Linked DNA regions of Homo sapiens: region 2 is linked to region 1. The links come from fine-mapping of genetic effects on gene expression. A gene starts in region 1. The other region holds a variant in brackets. All regions are shown on one strand. Distances are from middle to middle. Region 1 holds the start of SLC1A1 (solute carrier family 1 member 1). Region 2 has its middle 68 kb from the start of PLPP6.

Region 1 (2,908 bases):
TTGTATTTTTAGCAGAGACGGGGTTTCACTGTGTTAGCCAGGATGGTCTCAATCTCCTGACCTCGTGATCCGCTCGCCTCGGACTCCCAAAGTCCTGAGATTACAGGCAAGAGCCACCGCACCCGGGTCCCCTTCTGACATTTCTTCAGATCTTCCTCGGACACCCAACGACCTTAAAATCCCTCTAACCTTCTTTCTCTCAAAGTTTACTTTCTATAAAGAGCTGATAAACTCATTCATACTAAAGTCTACAGGGTTGTAAATCTTAATCTATTATCGCTTAAAAGATGCTTGTATCAATTTACACCAAAGGGATGAAGCTCTAATTGTGGGGATTTAGTCATCAGAAAATCTAGTAGGGGAAATTCTCCCTACCCACAATCAGAGTAGATTCTACAATAGCAAAAAGGGTTCCAGGCTCACTTAACTTTAGGAACGCTGATAAGAAGACCGCTTACAGCTGCGGAGGTACTGATTTGGTAAAGGGAGGGAAAGAGATTGTATACGTGAGAGTGAAAAAATTGGGTAGAAAAATGGAAGAGCATCAGAAATTCACTTAGCAACACCAAATATATTTGGCACCACTAACCTAGTTTCTCCTGTGTTTGCCTTTCCAATCCGTTGGACCTTAGGGGATGGACCGCCCACTTTCTCCCCAGAGCGGCTCCCGGGTCCGGTTCTCAGTTCTAATCACTGCCCCAAGCCTCCATGCTCCAGGGCCTGTGGTCACAGAGCAAGTCCCAAGGAGCAGAAGTAAAGTTCTAAGAGAAATCACCATCTCCTTGTGCAGGGAACACTCCCAAGCCCAGTGTCCACAGACAAATCACCTCCAGCGACTCGAAGAGGAGAATAATCCCTGTGGGGGCACTGGAGGCTCCGCGTGAAAGTTTCCAAAGCCATGTTCTGCCCCAGGACTCCTTTCTCTCCTCCCAGAAGCTTCAGGCTTTCGCGGCTGCTGGCACATCCCAGCCTGAGTAGCCGAGCAAGAGGGACCCAAGGCAGGATCAGCTTCCCCCGACTTGAAAGGGCACCCGTTCTGCAGGTGCCGGCGCTGGAAATAGCTGGTGTGGAGAACGGAGAGGGAGACGTGCAGGATGAAGTCCGCGCCCAGGAGGGCAGTGGCTCCGCCTCTCTGGGTTAGGGACAGAAGAAAACCCTTAACCCAAAGCCCTAGCATGAGTGAGGCGTGGAAAGCGAGACAGACTCCAGTGGAAGGCTGTGGGGCGGGACTCAGGGTTCCCGGAGAGGCCGCCCCAGCTCCTGCCGCAGCGCTGGGCGCCCTACCACGCCTGCTCCCTAGGGACCCCGGGCGTCCCACGCACGCACCCACCCTCCTTCCCGGGCCTGCCGCTCCTCCCTCCTTCCTCGCTGGTTGGCCCAGGCGCCGCAGAGCGCGGCGGCAGCAGGAGGAGCCGGGCGCGCCTGCCACGCAAAACTACCGGGCTGGCAGGGCGGCGGGCGCGGTGCGCGATCCCGGGTGGCGGCGGCAACGGCGGTGGTGACGGCGGCGACTGCAGCGGCCGGCTCTCACCTCTCCCCTGTGCACCCGCATCTCGCCGCGCCGCCGAGCAGCCAGCAGTCCCCGGGTCGCCCAGCCCACGCGCGCACGGCCGAGCCCAGCGCACAATAGCGGCGACAGCCATGGGGAAACCGGCGAGGAAAGGATGCGAGTGGAAGCGCTTCCTGAAGAATAACTGGGTGTTGCTGTCCACCGTGGCCGCGGTGGTGCTAGGTGAGCGGCGCGGCGGGTGGGCGATGCGCGCACCCTCACGCGCTCTCTGCGCCCAGGCCGCGTGCGGCTGAGGGTGGGCTTGGCGCTGGCGCACTCCATGCAGGGTCCCTCGATGCCCCCTCGGCCTTAGCCTCGGGCCCCCTGCGGGGGCTTTCCCCCAAGCGCTCTAATTACTGCACACCAAGAACAAAGCTCCTCTGGGACTCCCATTTGAGTGCTCCTTGAGCTGCTGGTTCCTGCTCTACCCAAAATGATCAAAGGGGCTTGGGGGTAGAAAGGGAAGCAAGTAGCTCTTGGTTCTGCTCGTTTGAAAACAGGGTTCGATTTTTTTCTTTGTTAATCCCGCACCGTATCTCCCCCTATCACCGCCACCTTCCTCACCCCACACCCCCAGCCTCGCTGCGCGGGCAGAGATTGAGTGTGGATTACAGTTCTCAGTCGAATTGGAAGAGGCACCCTGGCCTCCGGGATGGGCCGGACCCTTAGGGGAGGGAGGCTGAGAACGCTGTCGCCGCTCATCCTGGGCAGTGCGTGGAAAGGTGCCTTCCCACGCGGCGAGCGCCGACTGCCTGCACCCGGGCTCTGAAAAGCTGCCAGATTCGTGCCTGAATTCTGGGATGTGCCACTGTGGCCCGCGGGAGGTCACCGGGGAAGAGAGCTAAGAGAACTCAGCCGTCTCTTCTCCTGCCTTCCTTGCTCTCCACGTTGTTTTTGTATTTAAGATAATGTTTAAGCCATCCTTGCCTGTTTTTAAACAAGGGTGTATTTAAGTGATCCACCCCTCACAGATCACTGGACCAGGTGGATGTCTGAGCCATTGCTCAGAGGTATGAGTTATTCCTATTTAGATTCTGATTTTTTACCAAGGTTGTGTGTTTCTAGCTCCGGCCCGGGGATGCACTTCCTTGGGATTAGCGCCATATCTGTCGCCTTCCCAGTGATAGCTCCTCAGCAGGTGAGGGCTGTTGCACCCTCTGAGGAATGTGGATTCCTCGGCAGGCTCCACCTTCCCCTTGGAAACTGCAGCTGTGTTTGCTGAAAAGGCAAGTGGGGACAGCTTGTTTCCTCCCAACCTCAGGTACCTTCCTCTCCAACTGCTGCTCCTAAATCTCAGAATATATGGTGTTGCTTGCTTCTCCTCCGAACCGCCCCCTCCCCTCAGGGTGGGGATAGGGC
Region 2 (2,908 bases), 100 kb after region 1:
GAAACTTTTGGAGATGATGGATAGGTTTATGGCATAGACTTTGGTGATGGTTTCACAACTCACCAAGTTGTACATGCTAAATATGTACACCTTTAGTATGCCAATCATACCTGAATAAAGTGGTTTAAGAAAAAAAGAATCACTGCTAACACCAAGCACTAACTATGTGCTGAGATTGTACTAAATATTTTACATGCATAGTCTCATGCATTCTTCTTAACACTTCTATTAGGCAGGTCATATTACCATCTGTTTCCCAGTTGAGGAAACTGTGGCTTAGGGAGGTTAAGTACTTTGCCCAAGTTCACAGAGCTGGGACTCACATGATTCCAAGTCTTTTCCTAACTATTAAGATATAATGCTTCAAAATGCCTAAAAAGTAAGAGGAAATGCATGACAGTATCCAATCGTCACCTCTTTACAAGCTTTCTAATCATGACATTTTATTTGATACAACCAAATTTGCTCCTTCAAATTGCTGTTTGTTTTCCCATTCTAGCAAAAATTAATTTTAAATATGTCTAGATTATCTCCCACCTCATCTAGCTGCCCAGCCTCACCTCCTTTATGGTATACAATATCATTGTATCCCTCCCTTATATCACCTTTAAATCTTTCACTCAAACCCCAACTCTCCCCAAAATCCCTTTCTTTTCCAAAACCAGGGATGGGGAGTTGTCAGGATAAAAACTGGAACCCTATTTCTCTTTTCCTTTTCTTGCCAAATTTTGGGGGCTGCTTTTTATTCTTTATACTGTGACTCCATTTCCTCCCCACTCACAAACACCTAATCCCCTACAGTCGGGCTTCCACAACATTCCTGAAACTCCGAGGTCATCAGTGCCCTGCTCATGAAATCCAAAAGGCATTTTCTCAGTCATCAATTTTTACTCTTCTGCAACATATGTCACTGTTGATTAGCTTTATATTCCACTAAGTTATTTTTCCTTGGCTTCCAAGACATTACCAGATTCTGCCCCGCCTGACCGTTTTCCACCACTCTTCCACAACCTTTGTAACCTCCTCCTGCTGCTCCCTTACTGTGGGTCTCATCTCTCCCTGTGCCACACACACAGGGTCCCCTCAAATATTTGTGGAATAAATGAACAAGCTCACATCCTTCTGGTCTTCCTCTCTCCACCAGATACTCCTCCAATATTATGGATTCCACTACCATCTCTATGCAGATGATTAACAAAAATGTGTATCCACAAAGTCTACAGCTGCCCTTGGTTTCTCCTGCCCTGATCTCCAAGCCAAACCTCAGATCCCCACCTCCAACTTCTACTGACCACTTTCTGTTGGCTTTTCCACCATCTTTTTAAACTGAACTTATCCAAAATCAATCTCATCAATCTTTTCTGTAGTCTCTCTTTCCCAGATTGGGAATTG[T/C]GGGTTTTTGTTTTTTGTTTTTTGTTTTTCGGAGTCTCGCTCTGTCACCCAGGCTGGAGTGCAGTGGCGCGAACTCAGCTCACTGCAAGCTCTGCCTCCCGGGTTCATGCCATTCTCCTGCCTCAGCCTCCAGACTAGCTGGGACTACAGGCGCCCGCCAGCATGCCTGGCTAACTTTTTTTGTATTTTTTAGTAGAGACGGGGTTTCACCGTGTTAGCCAGGATGGTCTTGATCTCCTGAACTCATGATCTGCCTGCCTCAGCCTCCCAAAGTGCTGGGATTACAGGTGTGAGCCACCGCGCCCAGCGGGGAATTGTGTTTTTAAAAATCACCATTATTTCCCCTACAATCTAGGATCATAAACATTTCTTCTTGCTTTTGACCCCAAGAGGTTTGAGGTTGCAAGGCAGGTCTATAGAGGTTGGTGCATTTATTTGAATCCGTCTGCTCTGGGATTCAGGTGGGAGCCCCTGAGTGAACAGTGATGCCTCTTTGTGAAGCGAGTGACCCAAGACTTAGCCTCTGTCCAGACATGAATCACTGGACATGGTGTACTCCTGCATTTTCTCTTCCCACGTAATTCTTGAATAAACAACTTGTATTTTGATAATCCTCTAAATTCTATTTACAACCATAAGGCCTTCACGATAAGAACAAGATTCAGAGGGATTAAAAAAATACTAAACAAAATCCCAGACAAGGCCTCCATTCTTCTCAACACCCACCTTGACCCCTAGTAATTCTAAGTGTTCCCTATTCTATCTCCCTGGCCAAAAAGAGACCACAAAAAGAAAAGTCCCTAAAGGATTTCATTTGAGCTCCTATTTTGTTCTCTTAGTCGTTGAGTTCATCTTGCCTCACACATCATGAAGAATATGAATCCACAAAATGAAGGACACTGTGTCCTTATTTCTGCAGGGCAATTATTCTCTCCATCAATACCTCATTCTGCTGACTAAGTAGTTCACCTTCACTTTGTAACAAGCCCAGGCCACCGGACTTAACCACTTCTTCCTTAAAAGGGCCAGGTACCTCCCCCATACACCCACAGGTTTTTAAGCACCCCTAAAATAAGTTGTCTCATGATGTCTTCCCAGCCCTGATGTCTAATCAGCCCTTCTCTTTCCTGTGACTCTCCTACTCAGTTGAGGTTCTATTGCCCTAATTTTCAGACTTCTTCAAAGGCTTTGTCAGAGTCTCCCCACCGCCAGCCTCTACCTACTCCCAAACCATCCTGCACAAGATCATCAGATTAATACTTTGCTTTCTGGCTCCAAAACTCTAACGGCTTCTTATTGTCTACAGCACAAGTTGAAAATACTCGCCTGAATATTTAGGACACTTCAGAAGATACCCCAAAGGACATTTCCTCTTCTCTATATACATATGCTTCATTATACTCTCCCCAGTTGCCTCACTCTCCCAAATCTCTTCTCTACCTGGTCTGCCTATTTTTTAAATGCTGAAAATAAGTTCTGGGCCTCCAACACCAATACCCCACTGTTTCTAACCTCC

Evidence for each region. PIP is the estimated chance that this variant, and not a neighbour inherited with it, causes the effect. A credible set is the group of variants that fine-mapping cannot tell apart.
Region 2: its variant is the best candidate, but not a certain one, in a credible set for the expression of SLC1A1 in lung (TOPMed, PIP 0.62).

Annotation. Positions count from the first base shown.
Region 1 is chr9:4,489,039-4,491,946 of GRCh38, forward strand. SLC1A1 (solute carrier family 1 member 1) reads left to right here and starts at 1,430. Exons shown (of 12, transcript NM_004170.6): 1 at 1,430-1,732. The coding sequence starts at 1,642. It also overlaps a transcript of GLIS3 not described here. RefSeq lists an enhancer at 1,028-1,077 and a silencer at 1,228-1,657.
Region 2 is chr9:4,592,811-4,595,718 of GRCh38, forward strand. It overlaps a transcript of SPATA6L not described here. Among named protein-coding and RNA genes, the nearest start is that of PLPP6, 68 kb to the right of the region's middle. The variant T/C (reference allele first, on the strand shown) is at 1,393.